Linked DNA regions of Homo sapiens: region 2 is linked to region 1. Evidence: fine-mapped expression QTL. A gene starts in region 1. The other region holds a variant in brackets. All regions are shown on one strand. Distances are between the middles of the regions. Region 1 holds the start of PTOV1-AS2 (PTOV1 antisense RNA 2). Region 2 holds the start of MIR6800 (microRNA 6800).

Evidence for each region.
Region 2: its variant is fine-mapped to the expression of PTOV1-AS2 in whole blood (TOPMed, PIP above 0.99).

What each region holds. Positions count from the first base shown.
Region 1 is chr19:49,853,818-49,863,796 of GRCh38, forward strand. PTOV1-AS2 (PTOV1 antisense RNA 2) reads right to left here and starts at 5,472. Exons shown (of 5, transcript NR_110730.1): 1 at 5,389-5,472; 2 at 5,026-5,280; 3 at 4,737-4,809; 4 at 4,530-4,610; 5 at 2,648-3,255. PTOV1 (PTOV1 extended AT-hook containing adaptor protein) reads left to right here. Exons shown (of 12, transcript NM_001394010.1): 2 at 589-726; 3 at 835-917; 4 at 1,014-1,071; 5 at 1,153-1,260; 6 at 3,158-3,313; 7 at 3,876-3,965; 8 at 4,087-4,160; 9 at 4,240-4,297; 10 at 4,732-4,836; 11 at 6,169-6,366; 12 at 6,451-6,925. The coding sequence ends at 6,462. It overlaps PNKP (polynucleotide kinase 3'-phosphatase), which reads right to left. Exons shown (of 17, transcript NM_007254.4): 8 at 9,872-9,943; 9 at 8,873-8,921; 10 at 8,721-8,791; 11 at 8,554-8,646; 12 at 8,368-8,464; 13 at 8,227-8,288; 14 at 7,955-8,064; 15 at 7,791-7,878; 16 at 7,632-7,693; 17 at 7,387-7,548. The coding sequence ends at 7,431. It overlaps MIR4749 (microRNA 4749), which reads left to right and starts at 774; the gene lies at 774-834. RefSeq lists enhancers at 122-181, 2,366-2,425, 2,456-2,505.
Region 2 is chr19:49,830,697-49,840,675 of GRCh38, forward strand. It overlaps MED25 (mediator complex subunit 25), which reads left to right. Exons shown (of 18, transcript NM_030973.4): 9 at 1-191; 10 at 637-765; 11 at 1,240-1,325; 12 at 1,404-1,461; 13 at 1,612-1,719; 14 at 4,290-4,481; 15 at 4,838-4,909; 16 at 5,031-5,249; 17 at 5,530-5,710; 18 at 6,151-6,283. The coding sequence ends at 6,248. It overlaps MIR6800 (microRNA 6800), which reads left to right and starts at 1,322; the gene lies at 1,322-1,403. PTOV1-AS1 (PTOV1 antisense RNA 1) reads right to left here. Exons shown (of 4, transcript NR_040037.1): 4 at 7,949-9,380. RefSeq lists enhancers at 3,863-4,363, 4,364-4,864. The variant C/T (reference allele first, on the strand shown) is at 4,069.

The DNA of each region.
Region 1 (9,979 bases):
TGTGTTTCTTGTCATCTCCTTCCTGCCTCCCCCCGGGGTCAGACTTATAAGGCCAGAGAGGTGGGCACTGGCCTGAGCCAGAGGAAGGAATTGAACTTTGGGATGACAGGGAGCTTTAGGAGAGTTTCAGCCTGGGAAAGACAGGGCAAGCTGGTGTGTGGGACAGACACAGCGCAAGCCGGCTTGTGCCTGTGGAGGCTGCAAGGAAGCCCTGGGCCCAGCCTGGGGCACGGGGAAAGCCCCCTACAGCTGGCTTCTAACTTGGGTCTCAAGAATCGATCAGGCGCACAGCTGGGGCAAAGGCTGGAGGTGGGGCTGGCTGAAGGCTTCAGGACTCTGCTGGGCCAGTGTCAAGGTGACAGCAGGCTCTGGGAAGGAAGGGTCCTGAGGGTGGGCAGCGGGAAAGGACATGAGGACCAGCGTGTGGGGGTCCTGAGGGGTGAGCAGAGGGTTTGGACATGGCCCCGTGGGCTTCCAGCAGGGGATTTGGGGCTGAATATTGGGACGTCCCCTCTGGGGTGTGTGGGGACTGCCTGTCCTTGCAGGCCCCGGCCTCAGTTTTCCCACCTATCCCCCACTCCATTGCAGGAAGGTGCTCGGGTCTTCGGGGCACTGGGTCCCATCGGTCCCTCCTCACCTGGGCTCACCCTCGGGGGTCTGGCCGTGAGCGAGCACCGGCTCAGCAACAAGCTGCTGGCTTGGAGCGGCGTCCTCGAGTGGCAGGAGGTGAGTCTCTGTGGGGCTGCGGCTGGCCTCCAGGGTCTTGTCTTGTCCCTGCGGGGACAGGCCAGGGCATCTAGGCTGTGCACAGTGACGCCCCTCCTGCCCCCACAGAAGCGCAGACCCTACTCTGACTCCACTGCAAAGCTGAAGCGGACCCTGCCCTGCCAAGCCTACGTGAACCAAGGCGAGAACCTGTGAGTGCCGGGGCGTGGCAGCCAGGGCGGTGGCAGGGGCAGTGGCTGTGGCCGTGGGGATCAGGGCAGCCCTTTCTGACCAGCTCCTTCCCATAGGGAGACCGACCAGTGGCCGCAGAAGCTGATCATGCAGCTGATCCCTCAGCAGCTGCTGGTGAGACCCGCCCCTCCCACCCCATCCACTCTGAGCACCCCCATGCCTGGCTGACCCAGCTGTCTGTCCTGTCGCCCCCAGACCACCCTGGGCCCCCTGTTCCGGAACTCCCAGTTGGCACAGTTCCACTTCACCAACAGAGACTGCGACTCGCTCAAGGGGCTCTGCCGCATCATGGGCAACGGCTTCGTGAGTGGGGCGGGCTCCCTTGTAGCACTGTGGTGACAAGTACAGCTGGAGGCAGCGCTCTGCTCACACAGTCCAGGCGGGGGTCGGGGGGTCTCCCCTGGGGCCGAGGGTAGCCCTCGTGGCCTCTCGGACCCCATCTGGAAATGACTGACTCCAGGCACCCTCCGTAGAGCACAGGGTGAAGGAACTCAGCCTGAGAGGCCTCCAGTTTCTGCATCTGTGCCCAGCTTCGAGGTGGCCCTGGGGGCGTGAGTGCAGGGAGGGACTGGGGCCAGCCCTGTTGGGGCCCAGGAGCCTGTCGGGGACACATAGCGTATGGCAGGGACCTGGTAAATGGGTGTGCTAGGCACAAGAGCCAGCCAGGAGGGAGTGGCACGTTGGGGCTTGGTATTCTGGTCTGTAAAATGGGCTAACCTCCCCGAGTGGCCTGAGCTGGCCGTGAGGGAGCAGAGCTGAGGGTGCTGAAGCAGGCGCGGTGAGTAGGTCCTCAGGCCTGGCTCCAAGGGGACCCAGGTATCCAGCCAGTGGCTGTGCAGGGACTGAGTGGGGCAGGCGCGGCCATGACCTGGACCCGGGGGGCTGCCAAGGGATCTGAGAGCGGCTTCCGCAGCACTCCAGGGTTGGGCTGGTTGAGGGGTAGAGATGACATTTTCTGAGGTAGGGAGGACAGGGGAGCCGTGCTTCCTAGGGCCACCGGGAGGCTGGAGGGAGGGAATTTGTGTAAAGCGCTTGAGATGGTGACTTTAGTACCTAGTGAGTGCTGGGTGAACCCAGCTGGTGAGGCTGTTCAGGTGACTGAGATTCTGGCGCAGGGCAGGTCAGAAAGGGGGCTTGGGCTGTGAAAGATGGCAGGTGCTGGAGAGGAGGCAGGGGTGGGGTGGGAGCGAGTTGTCTGCCCAGAGGACCTGGCTCTGGGACATTCCCAGTCCCTGTTCCCTGTTGGGACAGTCTGCCTCTACCCGTCCCAGCTGCCGTTGAGCGCCCTGGGTTCCGCTAGGGCCTCCCTTCTCCCTCAGGAGACCAGGGGCAGACCAGGGCTTGTGCCTGGCATGAGGTCTCTTAAGTGACCCGTTCCCCCTTCACCCAGCACCGTTTGTTGAGGGCCTGCCATATCTGGGCCCCGAGTACCCAGTCTGTAGGGAAAGTGGACATCCATACTCACCCCCCAGGCATGGCCCTGGGAGGCTGACTGTGCATGGCTCCAGGGAGGCCAGGGACAGGGCCCTGAGCGGGTGATCCCTGGGCTGGACACCAAGGTTGAGAAGTTAGGCCGGCAGCGTGGAGGGGACAGCACTGTGGGGGTGGCCCGGTGTGGGGAGGGGACATGGGGTTTTGGGACGGTCACACCACTTCATCTAGACACCACAGCCAGGCACATCTGTCAGGCTTAGTTCTCCCATGCGCCATCCTCAAGAGGCACCAGCACTTTATCTGTTGAGCCTTTATGTGGCACCAACTGTGTGCACTATTACCCGGTTTTACAGATGATGGAGGCCCAGAAGCAGGAGGTGGCTGGTGTTAGGTCACACAGCTAGGAGGCAGCAGAACGGTGGGGCGCTGCCTGTGCTCTTAACCCCCAGGCCAAGTCACCCCATCAGGCAGTCAGGAGGGCTGGCGGCAGGGGGTGATGTGGGTGGGAGGTAGTGCCTTCTTGGCATTCTCACCGCAGCCTGGGTGCCGGGTGCCACTCTGACCTCAGCCATGGCAGGGTCGGGGGATGCCGATGGGCGCTGCACGGGCTCTCAGAGGCCCCTCACCTATGGCCATGGCCTTGACTGTGGGGGCCTCTGTCCACCGATGATCTCCCTTCATCCCCTACAGGTGGGGCGGTCCAGGGTGGTGGGGGCACAGTGGCCCCGGGCAGTGACCACAGGGTCCTGACCCGCGGCCCCCGCAGGCGGGCTGCATGCTGTTCCCCCACATCTCCCCCTGTGAGGTGCGCGTGCTCATGCTCCTGTACTCGTCCAAGAAGAAGATCTTCATGGGCCTCATCCCCTACGACCAGAGCGGCTTCGTCAGTGCCATCCGGCAGGTCATCACCACCCGCAAGCAGGTGTGCCAGCCAAGCACAGCCCCTCTGGGGACAGAGGGGGATTAGACCCCACTGCCCTGGTTGGGCAGCCAGACTTGGTGTGGGCGGAGTGTGATGCGATGGCTGGAGCAAGGAGCTGCAGGGGAGCCCGGAGGATGCCGGGCGGGTTCCCACCAGGGCTCCATGGAAAAGCGGCCACTGGGCGGCTCTGCAGGGCTGGAGGGTGGGTCTTGGCGCGGCGGCAGGGAAGCCAGCGGAGCGGGGAGCTGGGCAGGGGTTGGGATCGTCCTGCGGCTGGAAGGCCCTGCCTGGTAACCACGTGTCCTGGTCATGCCTTGCCAGTTGAGGCAGACTCTGCAGGTCCTGTGCACCAGGTGAGGGCCGGGACCTGTCTCAGGCCACTGGGGAGCCATGGGGGGCTGTGAGCAGATGAGGGGCAGGGCCTGTTCCCCTGGGACTAGAGAATGGACCCAGCTGGGGCTAACAGGCCAAGGCTCGGAGGGAGGGATGGCAGGCCCCAGGACAGACAGACAGGTTTCCCAGGAGCCTGGGCCCCTCTTCCCACCCCGTTCCCTTCCAACAGGCAGTGGGACCTGGTGGTGTCAACTCAGGCCCAGTCCAGATCGTCAACAACAAGTTTCTGGCATGGAGTGGTGTCATGGAGTGGCAGGAGGTGAGCACTCGGCAGCCCAGGGACTTGGGACCCCCAGATCCTCACGGACTGTGGCTGGGAGGGGACACTGGCATTGGGGGTCTCCAGCCCTGAGGGCTCCTCTTTGCCTCTCCCCCAAAAGCCCAGGCCTGAGCCCAACAGTCGGTCCAAGAGGTGGCTGCCATCCCACGTCTACGTGAACCAGGGGGAGATCCTGTGAGTGCTGGGCTGGGGGGTGGAGGCAGCATCCAGGGGAGCTGGGGCTTCCTGACCCTCGTCCCTTTGTGCCCCACAGGAGGACCGAGCAGTGGCCAAGGAAGCTGTACATGCAGCTCATCCCGCAGCAGCTGCTGGTGAGGGGCTGGGGCCGGGTGCTGGAGCCTGCACGCAGTAGCTCTTCCAGAGGGCGGGGCTGGGGGCAAGAGCGCCTCCCCAGGTGGCCTGAGCTGGCTGTGAGGGAGCGGAGCTGAGGGTGCTGAAGCAGGTGTGGTGGGTAGCTCCTCAGGCTTGGCTTCAAGGGGTCCCAGGCAGCCAGCTGGTGGCTGTGCAGGGACTGAGCGGGGCAGGGGCAGCCACGACCTGCACCTGGGGGGCTGCCAAGGGATCTGAGAGCGGCTTCCACAGCACTCCAGGGTTGGGCTGGTTGAGCGGTGGAGATGACGTTTCCTGAGGTAGGGAGGACAGGGGAGTCTCAGTTTGGTCCTGGGCCCGGGGGACTCAGCGGGCTGGGAGCCGGGAGGCCGTGGTGGGAGAAGCCAGAGCTGGGGGTCCCCTCGCTTCCCCGCAGACCACCCTAGTGCCGCTGTTCCGGAACTCGCGCCTGGTCCAGTTCCACTTCACCAAGGACCTGGAGACACTGAAGAGCCTGTGCCGGATCATGGACAATGGCTTCGTGAGTGGTGCCAGCAGACGCAGGGGAGGGGCCGGCCAGGGCAGAGCGAGCCCGGACCGCTCACGGGGGCGGACATGGGAGAGGAACAGAGCACCATGTCCCAGACCAGCTGGGGAGAGAGGGTGGCTAGTGTGGGCGTGACTTCTGGGGGCTCTGTGCTGTCCCCACGGCACTGGATGGGGCACTGACCCTGGTTCTGCGGGGGCCTGCTCCTCCTCTGCCACATCAGGGCTGACTCAGCACCAACTCCGCGCTCTCCACTCCTCAGGGACAGGCGCCCTTGTCACTCCTGGTTTCCCGGGAGCTTGTGCCACATCCCAAAGGCCCATTGCTGGGCAGGGAGGGCTGTCTGCCCCCAGCAAGGTCCCAGAATATTTGGCGATTGTCTTATCTGGGGGAGGCTCAGCTGACTCCTCTTCTCTCTCTCGGGCTCAGTTTCTCCATCTGTGAGGTGGAGAAGGTTGGACTTTGGTGTTTCTGAGCCCTCCCCCCGATGTCCACCTTCCAGCTGGGCCATACTTGGGTAATATCCCGAAACTACCTTAAAATTACCTTCGACTCAGTCTGAGTAAACTGTCCACGAAGCTGTTCGTGGGTGGGGGGGGCCTGGGTGTAGGTGCTTTTACATGAAAGCAATTTCAAGCATTCCCTCAGGGGCCGGGTGCGGTGGCTCACGCCTGCAATCCCAGCACTTTGGGAGGCCGAGGCGGGTGGATCACCTGAGGTCAGGAGTTTGAGACCAGCCTGGCCAACATGGTGAAACCCCGTCTCTACTAAAAATACAAAAATTAGCCAGGCATGATGGCCACTCAGGAGGCTGAGTCACAAGAATGGCTTGAACCCGGGAGGCAGAGGTTGCAGTGAGCTGAGATCATGCCATTGTACTCCAGCCTGGGCGACAAGAGCGAAACTCAGTCTCAAAAAAAAAAAAAAAGTTTCCTCAAGGAAACCCAGAAAGGCTCCATGTACCTCAGCCCTTGCTTGTGCTGGGCCGGCCGCTGCAGATCCCTCGGGCTCCTGAGTTGAAGCCATGGCCGGTTGGCTCAGGTGGCTGTGGTGAGGTGGCCCCAGACACAGCCTGGCCTGCCCAGGAGCTCTGAAATGCAGGTTCTTGGGCCCTTCCCGACAGAGCCTGTTGGCCTTTGGCCCACCCATTGCTCTTGGCCACCGTGTCATCCCAATAAGGGGGCCCACCTCCAGGGTGGGTGGGGGGTGTGAGGACAGAGCAGTTAGGCTGTGCCTGGCTCATGGAGCCCACGGCATGATGCCGTGGTTGGAGGGATGCTGGTCCCTGTGGTGCTGTCTGGTGACACCACGCCCTGTGCCTGCCAGGCCGGCTGCGTGCACTTTTCCTACAAAGCATCGTGTGAGATCCGCGTGCTTATGCTCCTGTACTCTTCAGAGAAGAAAATCTTCATTGGCCTCATCCCCCATGACCAGGGCAACTTTGTCAACGGCATCCGGCGTGTCATTGCCAACCAGCAGCAGGTCCTGCAGCGGAACCTGGAGCAGGAGCAACAGCAACGAGGGGTGAGGTGGCCGGCCTCCAGGGCTGCTCAGTCTCCCTCCACCCCCGCTGCCTGCTCACCACTGGCCTCTGATTTCTCGCCGTAGATGGGGGGGTAGTGGTTACCCCGGGCTGGGCCCCTCCAGGAGTCACAGATGAGGCCCCCGCAGAGACTGGTGAGTGGTGACCCTGTCATGTACAGGAGGGACCCTGGGGCATGTGGGGGGGGTGGGGTTGGGAAAGAAGCAGGGCGACCTTGGCCTTGGGGAGAGCAGAGCAGAGGGAGAGGCAGCAGTCCCAGCGGTCCTAGGCTGTCGGGAAACTGCAGCCCAGCCTCAGGGCCATGGGAGGTGGTATCCAGGCCTGGGTGGGGCCAGGCCTCTGCTCACAGGGATGTGGGGTCAGTGCTTGGGAGCCTGTGGCCAGCAGCCCCCACTGCACCCCTGCCCCCAGGTGACACGCTTCTGAGCAGGGGCCCCTGGGGACTTCAACTGCCCAGCAACATGGAGGATGGTGTCCTGAGGCCTCCAAGGACGGTCCCCACCCCTCTACGTTTCCCCAATAAAGCCTTTTAAAAACCTGCCTGCCTTCTCTGCTCACTGCCCGATGCCTTGCAGCCCCCTAGCTCTAAGGTGGCCCAGCAGGCTGGACAGCCCGGGAACTCACTGGGTCTGGCTCTCGGCTGTCCACACCCTCTTCCCCCCCGAATCTCCAGACCCGCAGGCCTTGGGTTCAAGTTCAGTGTCACAGAACCTGAGCTGGATTTTGTCCTCAGGGGTCACACCTGGCCTTGAGCCAGCCCCTCGGTTGAGGCTCGTGGGCTCACCAGCTGGCTCTCGGGGGGCCACACAGCGCCCTCCCTGTGTGTTCCCCGGCTAATGTCTAAAGTGCTCATGCCAGGTCCCAGCTGGACTCCCCTCGGTAGGGCCCCACCTTTTGTTACCTGAAAATGTCCTTAAAGCCTCCTCCATGTAAGAAACTGGCAGGCCTGGAGCCCCTCCCCCGTGGGGACCACCCTCCTTCCAGCAAAATGCCGGCCAAGCTCAAGGAGAAACAGCGTTTATTGTGGAGGGGAGCTGGGCGGGGCTCAGCCCTCGGAGAACTGGCAGTACAGCCGCCCCAGCCTCGGCTCCACCCATAGCCGGAACGGGATCTCCAGGATGGCAGAGAAGCCTTCAGCCAGCGTTGGGGCCTCGAACTGCTTCCTGGCAGTGGTGGGAACAGTGAGGGACAGCCTGGATCATGTGGCCCAGCCAGTGCCCCTGCCCCCTGCTATCCCCAACAGTACCTGTAGCCATACATGACCATGTCTGACACGGGGATATGAGAGGAGTCCGTCATCTCTCGAAACTGTGGGGAACATCAGAGGGGCGGCAGGCCCAGGGGTCAGGGGAGGAGGGGGGTCAGGGGGTGCAGCCCGGGGGGTGTCCGGGCTGAGCGGGCTCACCCGGTTGTTGTGGCGCGCCTGCTCCAGAGTGGCGGTGAAGAGGAAGCAGCGGCAGGGGACGCCCGCGGCTCGGGCACACTGGACGTACCTGTGGGGGAAGGAGCTGGATGTGCAGGCCCCGCCCACCCCGCCGCAGGCCACCTACGGCCCCGCGGTCACGCTACCTGGCGCGGCTCGCGGCGTCTGGGTTTGTGTTGTCGATGGCGACCCGTTTCCCTTGCTTCAGGGCTGTCTCACACGTGGTCACACAGCGCTGCCAGGAGCCTAGCGTGTCCTGGGGACACGAGAGGTCACAAACAGATCGGCAGACCCAGGGGGAGAGAAGACCCCGAGCGGGGACGGGGAGGCAATGATGGAGGAAAGCCGCCCCAAACCAGTTGAGAGGTGGAGATGGGAACTTTATAATAGATTTGGGGCGGCAAAAGCCTGGTCATACCCTGTTCACGTGGACATATCCGGCCGACACGAGGTGCTTCTTGAGAAAGGTGGACTTCCCGGCTGTGTGGGGGGCAGTGTCGGTGGGTGGCCTAGGACCCAGGCGGGGCTCAGGGCACGCGCACAGGAACAGGACACTTACCCCCAGGGAATCCCACTGCGACAACCACCTCCGGGCTGGCGCTCAGGAGGGCCCTGGACTCGGGGAGGCAGAGAGGCCCTGAGCGGGAGACAGTCCTCTGCGAGGGGCGGGGGACACGCGTGAGATGCCGTCCCCATCCCCGGGAGCCCTCCCATCCCCACCCCCACCCCCGCCCCAGGGCCTCACCGGATCAAAGGCTGGGAGCTCGAAGCCGGCTGCTGGCCACTTGAGAAAGAACTCCTCAGGCGTGGCGAAGGGCAGGCCAAGGTTGAGGGCAAACTAGGGGTTGAGGACGAACATCAGACACAGGCCAGGGTCGGGCTCGGGCGCGGGGCAGGGGGCAGGGGCCTCACCAGGCGATCGGCGCAGGAGAAGTCTTTCTTCTTCCGCCCCGGGGCCCAGTTGGCCGGGCGTCCGGCTGCGTCTGGAACACACGGGACACCCCGTTCCCACCAGCTCGGAGGGAGGCGTCCCAGCCCACCCTCAGCAGCCTCCAGGCCCTTACCTCCCACAAAGATGCTGTCCCCGATGGATATGGGCGTGCCGTCGTTGGCCTACGGGAGACGGTAGTGAGGAGGCCCTTCCCACAAATGTCCCCCCGCAGCGGTAGCGGGTCCCTGGGGCTGCTTCGCCTGGTCTGTGCCCCACATCAGGAATCATCCCCCGACCTTTCATGTCCTCACTCTCCAGCCACTTTGCACCGTGCTCCTGGCCCCCTCCCCCCTCCGTGGTCTCTCCACACAGCCCCCTCCCTCCAGGTCTCCCGACTTCACCTCCTCCCGTTCCCCACGCGGCCACCGGAGGGCACCCACCCTGCTACAGCTCCAGCCTCCGGCGTGCCGGCGCCTCCCAGGTTCCCCCTCCCTCAGGGCAAAAGCGGGGCCCTCCCTGTGGCCCTGCCCTCTCCCCTCCCTCGCTTAGAGCCAGCCGCATGGGCCTCGCTGTCCCTAACTAGCCCAGGCTAGGGACTGCCTCAGGGCCTTTGCACTTGCTGTCACTCCCACAAGGGGGGGGACCGCTTTCCCCAGGTGTCCACCTGGCTCCCTCCTTTCCCTGCCTTAGGCCTTTTCCTCTGATGTCACCTCCTCAGAGGCCATCCCTGCCCACCACGGGTGATGCCTGCTTTCTCCAGCTCCCTCCCTCCTGCTGTTTTACACGCCAGTCTGCCCATCCGCCTAGAGTCACCGCCCTCGCCGTGAGGGCCCTGCTGGAGCAGGCCGTCCCGCTCACTGATACCTTCAGCTCAAGAATGCGCTAAACTTCAGAACAAATGCACACACAAACGAATGAACGAAGGAATGAACAGCTTCCCTACTACTCTGATGTAGAAAGTCTGAAAGCACTGGTCTCGTAAACCAACATCTAAGATGTCACAGCAAAAAACAGAAGGAGGGAGCGAGAGAGGACAGAGGAGTAAGGAGGCCCCAACCGGAGGCCGGGGAGCCCAGGAGTGAGGGGCTGGAGTGAGGAAAAGGAGGGGGGCCGGGCAGGCTGCAAGACTCACCTGCTCCTGCAGATGGTCCCACATGCCCGTCACCGGCTTCCGGTACAAGCCTGCGTGCGTGGCCACCAGCACCTGTGGATGGGAGGGGGCCACCAGCTTTAGCTCCCC
Region 2 (9,979 bases), 23 kb before region 1:
CGCCCATCACCCCTCTCCAACAAGCTGCTCCCGGAGTGGGTCCCCCCTTCAGCCAGGCCCCAGCTCCCCAACTACCCCCAGGACCCCCTGGCGCCCCCAAGCCACCACCTGCTTCCCAGCCCAGTCTGGTCTCCACTGTGGCCCCTGGCTCCGGCCTGGCTCCCACGGCACAGCCCGGGGCACCGTCCATGGTAGGTGCCTGCACGCCTCCTGCCCCTGCTCCTTCCTCCTGCTGTCCACAGCTAGGACAGTTAGAGGATGAGTCATTTGCCTTCCAGGGGGATGTGGCTCTCGTGGTTCTGGGGCTTTGGGGGCTCGTGGTGTGTGTGCTGCAGATGCCTGAGATGAGGGTCTGGGGACAGAGTGGGGAGGCTCATGGCTCCAGGAGGGTCAGGGCTGTTCCGAGAAACCCAAGGAATCCCTGGGTCTGGGAGTCCAGGGCATCGCACAGCTTACGAGTCCTCGAATCCTGCAAGGTCCAAGCATTTGGGGTCCTGCGGCTGGCCAAGTGCTGTTCTGGGGATGGAGGGGCAGAAGAAGGGATCTTTCCTCCTTCCTGGTTTGCCCTCACAGGATGGCCCCCGGAGGCTCCCGGCCTTCCCCATTCTCATGGCCCTCCTTCCTCCCCTCTGGCAGGCAGGCACTGTGGCCCCAGGAGGGGTGAGCGGCCCTTCCCCAGCCCAGCTGGGAGCCCCAGCCCTCGGTGGGCAGCAGTCAGTCTCCAATAAGCTTCTGGCCTGGAGCGGGGTCCTGGAGTGGCAAGAGGTGAGGGGCCTGAGGGTCCATTGGGCACTTGGGACTCCTGGGGCCGTGGGGCTGGGCATGTAGGACTCATGGGGCCAGATGCGTGGGGTCTGCAGTGCTGGGTTTGGAGGCATTCGTTGCGCTGGACCTGTGGGATGCGGGGCGAGGCCAGGAGCCCCATGGAGTGGTGGGACTTGCGGTACAGAGGAGAGTCCCCATGCAAAGAACCCAGAAAAGCCCAGGATTTGGGGCCCAGAGAAGAGCCCAGGCGATGTATCATCTGGGGCACAGTGGATGGTGGGATTTAGGGGCCGGGCACGTAGCTGTAACATTTGAGGAACTGAAGGCTTGCTGGTCTGGAGGAGGGGCCTGGGGCTCATGGGACTTAAACTGGGGAACATCCTGAGCTTTGGGGCTACCAGGGTAGGACATGAGGGCTCAAGGGGACTGAGGCTTATGGCCCTTTTTACTGACATGCTCTTTTTTCCCCCTCAGAAACCCAAACCTGCCTCAGTGGATGCCAACACCAAGCTGACGCGGTCACTGCCCTGCCAGGTCTACGTGAATCATGGCGAGAACCTGTAGGTGACAGTCAGGGGCGGGGTGTGGTGGGGCTGGGGCTGGCCCCCTCCTCACACCTCTCCTGGCATCGCCCCCAGGAAGACGGAGCAGTGGCCCCAGAAGCTGATCATGCAGCTCATCCCCCAGCAGCTGCTGGTGAGTGGCGGTGGAGGGCCAGCCCTGCTGCCGGGCAGTCCTCACCCTGCTGTCTCTTTCCTGTTCCCTGCCCCACCCCCACTCCCTGCCTCATGTCCCCGCCTCACTTGCCCACACCAGCATGCCAGCCGACTTCTGTGTCTCCCGCAGACCACCCTGGGCCCTTTGTTCCGGAACTCAAGGATGGTCCAGTTCCATTTCACCAACAAGGACCTGGAGTCTCTCAAAGGCCTCTACCGCATCATGGGCAACGGCTTCGTGAGTCCAGGGCATGGGGGGCCGAGGGGTGTTGACTCTTGTCCTGCTTTCTGCTGACCTTTGACGGGAATCCCAGAGTGCCTGGGCCCACGGAAGCCGTTTTTGATGGTTGGGTGCACTTCATGCCCTTAGGTTCCTCGCCTTTCTTCTAGAGCCGTGACTTTTATTATAATCATCGTATGCACCAGATTTGAGGGATATTCCACATTAAAAATGTGAGCTGGATGTGACAGGATCAGTTAGGAGGAAGCTGTTGATTCTGGCATGGCTTTATGGGATGTGTTCATTTCCTGTGGCTGTGGTAACACATTACCACAAGCAGAGGGGCTTAAAACAACAGAAACGTGTTCTATCCCAGTTCTGGAGGCCAGAAGCCCAAGGTCAGGGTGTCAGCAGGGCCACGCTCTCTCTAGAGGCTGGAGGGAAGGCCTCTTCGTTGCCTCTTCCGGCCGGTAACCCCAGGCTTCAGGTGGCATCGCTCCAGGGTCTTCCTCCATCCCGCAGCTGTCTTCCCTCTGTGTGTGTCTCCACATGGCATTCTCTCTGTATCTTTGTGTCTGTGCTTATAAGGACATCAGTAATTTTGGATTAGGCCCCATTTTCCTGACCTCATCTTACTACAATTGCAAAGACCCTCTTTCCAGATAGAGTCACCTTCACAGGTGCTGGGGACTGGAACCTCAGCTTAGCTTTCTGGTTTTGTTTTTTGAGACAGAGTTTCACTGTTGTCAGCCAGGCTGGAGTGCAGTGGTGCAATCTTGGCTCACAGCAACTTCCGTCTCCTGGGTTCAAGCGATTCTCCTGCCTCAGCCTCCCAAGTAGCTGGGATTACAGGCATGTGCCACTATGCCCAGCTAATTTCTGTATTTTTTAGTAGAGACAGGGTTTCACCATGTTGGCCAGGTTGGTCTCGAACTTCTGACCTCAAGTGATCTGCCTGCCTCGGCCTCCCAAAGTGCTAGGATTACCGGTGTGAGCCACCGCGCCCAGCCTCAGCATAGCTTTCTGGGAGTCACAGTTCACACTTTGTAACTCGGGGAAGGAGCAGATCAGTTACTTCCGTGCACCAGGCACTCCTGCAGGAAAGAGAACCTTAGGGGGATCACCTCACGAGACCCTCACAGAACCTTGTGAAGAAGGCATTCCTGAGAGTTAGTACTTCCGGCTGCAAATCACGTAGTTTCCCAAACACATAGATAATTGGGGGCACTCGGAAAAAATGTTCTCTTATGATTCTGTGGGTCACCTGGGCTCAGTGGGCCATCTCGCTTGGCGACTCTCACGGGGTTGCCATCAGATGGCAGCTGAGACTCTGGTCATCTGAAACCTTTACTGGGCTGGATGTTCAAAACAGCTCCTCACACAGCCCTGGCTGTTGGCTGGGGCTTGGCTAGGACCGGCCATCCCAGTGTCTGCACATGGCCTGTCCACGTGGCCACACTGTGGCAGCTGGGTTCTGAGAGGGCAGGCGTTGTAGGAGCAGGCATTTATATTTTGCACAGGACAGGACATCTAGAGGGGGCCAGCTATTGGGATTGGTTTCATAGGTCTGTGACATCAGGGACAGGGCCCTGTGGTTCTCTTGGCCTCTCCTTTATAGTCACAAGGTAGCTCTCATGGCTCCACGCATCCTGTGTGCTTTCATGAAGGAGGGGAAGGGGGCTGTGTGTTTCCCTTTCTTCAAGACAGCAGAAACTTTCTCAGATTCCAGAGCAGGCATTCCTTTCACCTCCTATCCCGGACCTAGGCCACTGGGCAGCCCCTAGTTGATGGGAGGCTGCTGGGAGCAGGTATCCGTGACTGTCTGGGGCTGGGACATGTTACAGCCCCAGACAGCATTGGGAATGCAGGGGAGGAGGACACTTGGATATGGAATAGGCAGCTAGCAGGGTCTGTCTCAGGCAGGAAACCGAGGCTCAGAGAAGTCAATTCACTTGGCCAAGGTCAGCCTCGCCTCCCTCAGGAGCCCCTGCCCTGAATGCTCCATGTGTTACCCCCCTGATGACCAGTGATGTTTCCTGGGTGCTTCCTGTGGGCTGAGCCTCAGGCAGGGCTCTTGCTGTGGATCAGACATCGCATAGTCACAGCGACCCTGTGATGTGGGAGCACTCCCCGTGGTGTACACTGGCCGGTGCTGAGGGCTGGAGGATCTCTTGGATACCCGGGGTCCGACCCACCGTTGATCACAGGCCTGTGGGTACCACGCTGTGCATCTAGGCCGCTCTCCCGGCCGTGACCCTCAGCCGCCCTCTGAGGAGGCCGCCGTGGCATTTTATGCCCAAGAAACTGGGTCCATGAGGAGCAGGTGGTGGCTGAAGGTTGAAGAGCTGGGCTCCAGCACTTTCTCTC[C/T]GCTTTCCCTCTCAGTGGGCAGCTGGAACCCTAGCTTGCCCTGAGCGCCTCAGTTTCTGTCTCCAGAGCAACCCATAGCACACCTGTTCTCCTTAACCTTCTATAGCAGAAACCTCACCTCACCTTGCCTGTGGGGCCTCTAGAGCCTTCTGGAATGGGGAGGGGGTCAGGGCTGCCTCTTTCAGGGCCTGAATGGTTCTGAAGAGCTGTTGTCCACCCAGGCGGGCTGCGTGCACTTCCCCCACACGGCGCCCTGTGAGGTGCGCGTGCTCATGCTCCTGTACTCGTCCAAGAAGAAGATCTTCATGGGCCTCATCCCCTACGACCAGAGCGGCTTCGTCAACGGCATCCGGCAGGTCATCACCAACCACAAGCAGGTCCAGCAGCAGAAGCTGGAGCAGCAGCAGCGAGGAGTGAGTGTTGACAGTCCCCAAACCAGCACTCCGACCCCCTCCTGCCCGGGCCCCACATGGCCCCCTGGGGTCTCCAGGACCAAGATGCCCACCCTTCTCCCAATATGTGGTGCCTCCAAGCTAAGTCCCACTCAGATTTTCTTGCAGTCTCTCTCCTTTTTCAGCATCCACATCAAAGCCCTGACACAGCTTCCTCCTGGAGACCTTGGAGTGTACGGCATCCCTCCCAGACCACTCACCCCCAAAGAGAATGTCCCCATCTCCTTACTAGTTCCCCTCAGGGCACAGGCCCTCCCGCCTCAGATTCAGGATGCCACCACCCTCAGTTACTGACCTGCCCCTCTCTCCCCGTGCAGATGGGGGGACAGCAGGCACCCCCAGGGCTGGGGCCCATTCTGGAGGACCAAGCCAGGCCCTCACAGAATCTGGTGAGGACAGGGCTGGCGGGGTCGGGGCTGGGTTGGGGAGGCCCCAAGGCTGCGCTCTGTGCCTGCAGAAGGGGCGTGAGGCCCTGCCCATCTCCCTCACCCCTGTGTCTCTTCCCACCAGCTCCAGCTCCGCCCACCGCAGCCCCAGCCTCAGGGTACCGTAGGGGCCTCTGGGGCCACGGGGCAGCCCCAGCCCCAAGGTACTGCCCAGCCCCCGCCAGGTGCCCCTCAAGGCCCTCCTGGAGCAGCTTCTGGCCCACCCCCTCCTGGACCCATCCTTCGGCCCCAGAACCCTGGGGCCAACCCTCAGCTGCGAAGCCTCCTCCTCAACCCACCACCGGTGAGATGTTGGGGTGGGGTAGCGAGAGTTCCAGATCCTGGCCCTGGTGGTTCTGGTCCTGTTGTCTGGGAGGAGGGAGGTTGACTGTGGTCAGTGGGTGTGAATGGGGACCCGCCCAGGGCTTTAGGCAGAAGGCAGACCGCCTCCTCTCCGTCCATCCCCCACCTTTGAAGAAAAACTTCCCCTCACCACTAGCTGATTCCATCTCTGAGCAGTGTCTGTGTTGAGAGGTGGGGAGTCTCTACCAGGAGCCTCTGAGCCACTCTCTGTGTTCTCCCAGCCGCAGACTGGGGTGCCCCCACCCCAGGCCTCCCTCCACCACCTCCAGCCACCAGGGGCTCCTGCGCTGCTGCCTCCGCCGCACCAGGGCCTGGGGCAGCCCCAGTTGGGGCCCCCACTCCTGCATCCACCACCTGCCCAGTCCTGGCCCGCACAACTTCCCCCTCGGGCTCCACTGCCAGGTAAGGGGACCCGGGGGAGGGCAGAGGTCTGGACTGAGTGTCCCAGCAGCTCCTGGGCTAGAGCACCAAGACCGAGTGCTCCTGGGAAGTAAAGACATAGGATCCAAGAATGAGGGTTCCCCCATGGCCTTTGCGGAGCTCTGAGGGCTCCGGGAAAGTACAGCCCATGGGTCCAAGGACCTAGTGGGTTAAGAGCGTTTCCCATGATCCTCCTGTGTGTGCTCCTGGGATTGCTGGGAAATGTGGTCTTAGGGCCAGAGAAGTAGTTTTGGAGAAGGGCCCCCAAAGGCTCATGGGAAACAGCATATTTGTAACTAGATGGGGCCAGAAGGTGCTTCTGTTGGGTCCCCCAAGGGCTGCCTAGAAAACTTAGTGCCTCTGGGCCCTCCTGGGCCCAAGGGCCTACTGGGAGATGCAGTCCCTTCCCCACTGCCCCTCAGGTCAGATGCTGCTGAGCGGGGGTCCCCGGGGCCCGGTCCCCCAGCCGGGCCTGCAGCCCAGCGTCATGGAGGACGACATCCTCATGGATCTCATCTGAATCCCCAACACCCAATAAAGTTCCTTTTTAACACACGCCCCGGCTCCCGTCACTGACATCCCTCAGGACTGGGCAGGAGGAAACCCCAGGGGGCATCTCTGTCCTTGTTCTCACTTCAGCAGACATCCCTGGGGCCCTGGGTGAATGACGCTGGGGCCTCCGTGGTGAGTCACAGGCAGTCTGGTGCAACCTGATTCGTGGGAGATGCAGGGACAGGCAGGCAGCGCTCAGGACTCAAGCTCTCATGGAGGTGGCAGGGGCACCATGGGAGCCTGGAAGAGGCATCTGACCCAGCCCCAGCTCCTCAGAGTCTTGAAAGAGAATCAGCCGTCAGGCTGGGAGGGAAGGAGGTGAGGGGTGATCTGGGTGCAGAGGACAACAGAAACTTTGAATACTCAAAGGCAGGAGGAAGCCTGAGACATTGAGAGGAGCAAGTTGATGGATGCTTTTGGAGCATGAGCATGTAGGGAGCTAGAGAGATGGGCAGGTGCAGAGTTTGAGGAGCTCGGATTCCAAACTGAGCAGCCCATGGTTTGTCCTGGGGACACAGGAGAACCAGGAGGCTTTGAGCAGTGGGGCGGGCCTAGGCCAGCTCTGGATGTCAGAAAGACCCCTCTCAGCTGTAGAGCGTGATGAGGCCAGACAGGAGGCCAGGAAAGGTGAGGCTGGGTGGTGGCGGTGTCGGGGGCTGGGGTAGAGGTTCGCTCCCGGGGGCCAGGCCTACGTGATGGTAGGTGGTGGGGCTCCTGGGAGAAGGAGCTGGTAGTAAGTGCAGGTGGTCCAAGGGACATCCAGGTGACAGGTGCCATGTTGGGAGCTCAGGACGTGTCCTTAGGGGACAGTGTATGTTTGGCAGTTCAAGCCACAGAAGCAGACAAGATCGCACATGGAGAGAGGGCAGTCCCTGGGTCCATGTCAGAGACTGACCTTCCAGGGCTGTGGATGGGGAAGACGGTGGGTCTGTCCCCAGGATAGAATACCCAGCAGGGAACAGGTTTGGGACGTGGCAAGGTGAGGGACCTGAAGGATGTCCTCAGAGACGTCCCGAGGGCAGGGGGATCCAGACAGGCTTGGAGCGCAGGGTGGTCTCTCCTGGAGGTGGTGAGTGAGTTGTCTGTTGTTGGACTCTGGACCAGTGTTGCTGAGAGCGCGGTCCATGCCTGGACCACCAGCATCCACATCATTTTGCATGCTGGTTAACGTACAGATTCACGGGCCCCACCCCAGGAGAGAGATTGCAATCTGGTGGCCTATGGGCCATCGTGCGGATGAGTTTTGTTTGGCCTTCCCTGTGTTAGCATATGTGGCATTTTTTTCTTACGAGTTAGTTGTAAAAATCAGGTTAATTCACACACACACACGCACACACACAAAATCTGCAGTCTTGGCTTCTTTTGACAAGTCAGAAGAATTGGCACCCCTGGGCCCGCCCTTCTGCCTGGCAACAATGGGCTGGAGCTGCCCCTCTCCATGGGGCGTGTGCTTTCTGGTTCGCCACAGTCCCCACCACTCCCTCTTGGCTTCCCTGTGAGGCAGAGAGTCACTGCCTTTGTCACGGGGTTTGCACTGTGGTTGTTCTGTGGTAGCATTCAGAGGAAAGTGAAATCTTTCTTGTACCCATGTCTCTATCACAAGCGGCAAAACGAAAGAGAGAAGGAGAGGGCCGTGTGTTTCGAGAAAAATGGGAGCGAGCCTATTTCTTTGTGGAAGTGAAGAGCATGCCTATGTGTTTAATATGCAAACAAATCGTGTCTGTGTTGAAAGAATACAACCTGAAACGCCACTATGAATCAAAGCATAGTAAGAGCTACGACCAGTACACAGAACAGACTCGAGATGCCATCCTCAACGAACTGAAAAAGGGACTCAAATGTCAATAGGGTTTGTTTTGAAAAGCGAATTAACAGAAGTGGCGCGGCAGTGGTACGCCGTTCCGGAATCACGTGAGAAGAATGACCTGGGCATTCAGAGCTACAGCAGATGGCAAGTTTATAAAGGAGCAGAGTGACGTGTCCTGCACAGAAACACATGACTGTTGAGACCGTTATTTAAGTCTAACGGGCATTTGCGTTGCACAGTGAGTTGGAGATAACTCGGGGGATTTACAAGTCCAGTTGCTTGAAAGAGTCAAATTGATTGTGGCCTTTTCTTTCGCTGCTCATAAACTATTACCACCCAGTTAGCTTTATTTATTTGTGGTGTTAAGAATCTTGATGTGACCGAAGAAGTCTGTGGCATGGTGCCAAGGCAGGCCCAACACTGGGAAAGGACTAATTTTTTTTGTATATTGAGAGAAAAGTTTCACATAGACTGGCCAGAGTTCCGAAGCACAACTACAGACAGCGTCATGACAGGGGGACTTGGCAGGACACCTTGATCCAAGGCGACAGCATTTGGCAAGGACACGGAAGTTGGGTCGTTGCATCCATCATCAGGAGTTGACTTGTTCTGAGCAACTGAACAGAACACACCGCGATGCTCTCGACACTTCCGCTCCTGGACTTCAGTCACGAGTGAGTTGATGGTGACTTGACCTGAGAGATTTCACAGAAGCTCTGTGACTTGGTTGTGGAAGAAATCTGAACTGTTCAAGTTAACCAACTTGGTTCATTTTAAATCAGGCAAAAGCCACAGTGGGTTCCCCTGAGAAGGTTAGTCAAAGACTTCTGGTCAAGGTTATGACCGTTCTGAACACTGAATATTTCTCCGCAAGGATGTCCACAAACAGCTACTTGAATGTATGATGGTGTATGCTTGGTCCTGGGGAATCCACCGGCAAGGAAAAAAAACCTTTACTCTTTCCTGTGCTGCAGTCGGCTTTCAGAAATGAAAGAGGTGGCCCGGACTGTATTCACCTACGTCCTGGGGTTGAAGACCAAATTCCCCCAAAGGCTCTCGGAATCCAGACTCATGAGAAGGAACAGACATTGTCCAGTTTGCCTTTGTTGGCAGATGTTTCTTGTGTGAATGCAGACCATAAATAGTAATTGAACTACAGTGCAATACGGCGCTGGTTCCTAAATACAAGTCTGTGTGAAGATGGTGAGATTCTACAACTATCTCCAGTAGTTGTCCTGAATATCTGTGTTTGGGAGTACCCACGCTTGTGAACAGCTGTTTTCCGTTACGAACCTGAATCAAATTAAACATCGTTCCCAGTTGAAGGATTCAAGGCTGAATTCTAAACTGCCCGTCCCCACCGTGCCACCCGAGGCCTGACACTGACATCTCGGTGTGGAAGGGAAGACGCCAGCCTTTTGGCTTCAACTCAAAGGCGCAAAAAGAATTATGAAAGAGAAAATTTTAATAATTAAATATTTCTATTTTTCAATTTGTATTTTTTCAATTTTGAATTTAAAAATATAAACTCCAGTAACATCCATGTTTGTATTATGTTCCATGCATTCACCATAGTTGAGTAAAGATCCGATTTGATGATATTTCTGGCCGTCGACTTTTCTTATACCTGGCTAGTTCACTCATTTATGTGACCCGCCTGGCCCCTGTAGGCATGTGAGTTTCCGATCCCTGCCCTGGAACTGTTGGATCCAGTGGGGGGAGGGCGGGGGTCTGGGAGTCGTGTGAGCAAGCTCTCTAGGCGATCCTCAGGAATGTGAGTGTGGAGCAGGAGGCACTGGTGACAGCGAAGAAGTGCAAGTGGGTGATTTCCCAGGCAGCCTGTGTAGCAGGGGTTTTTGAAAACTCAGATGGCTTCAGGGACCAGGCAGGTG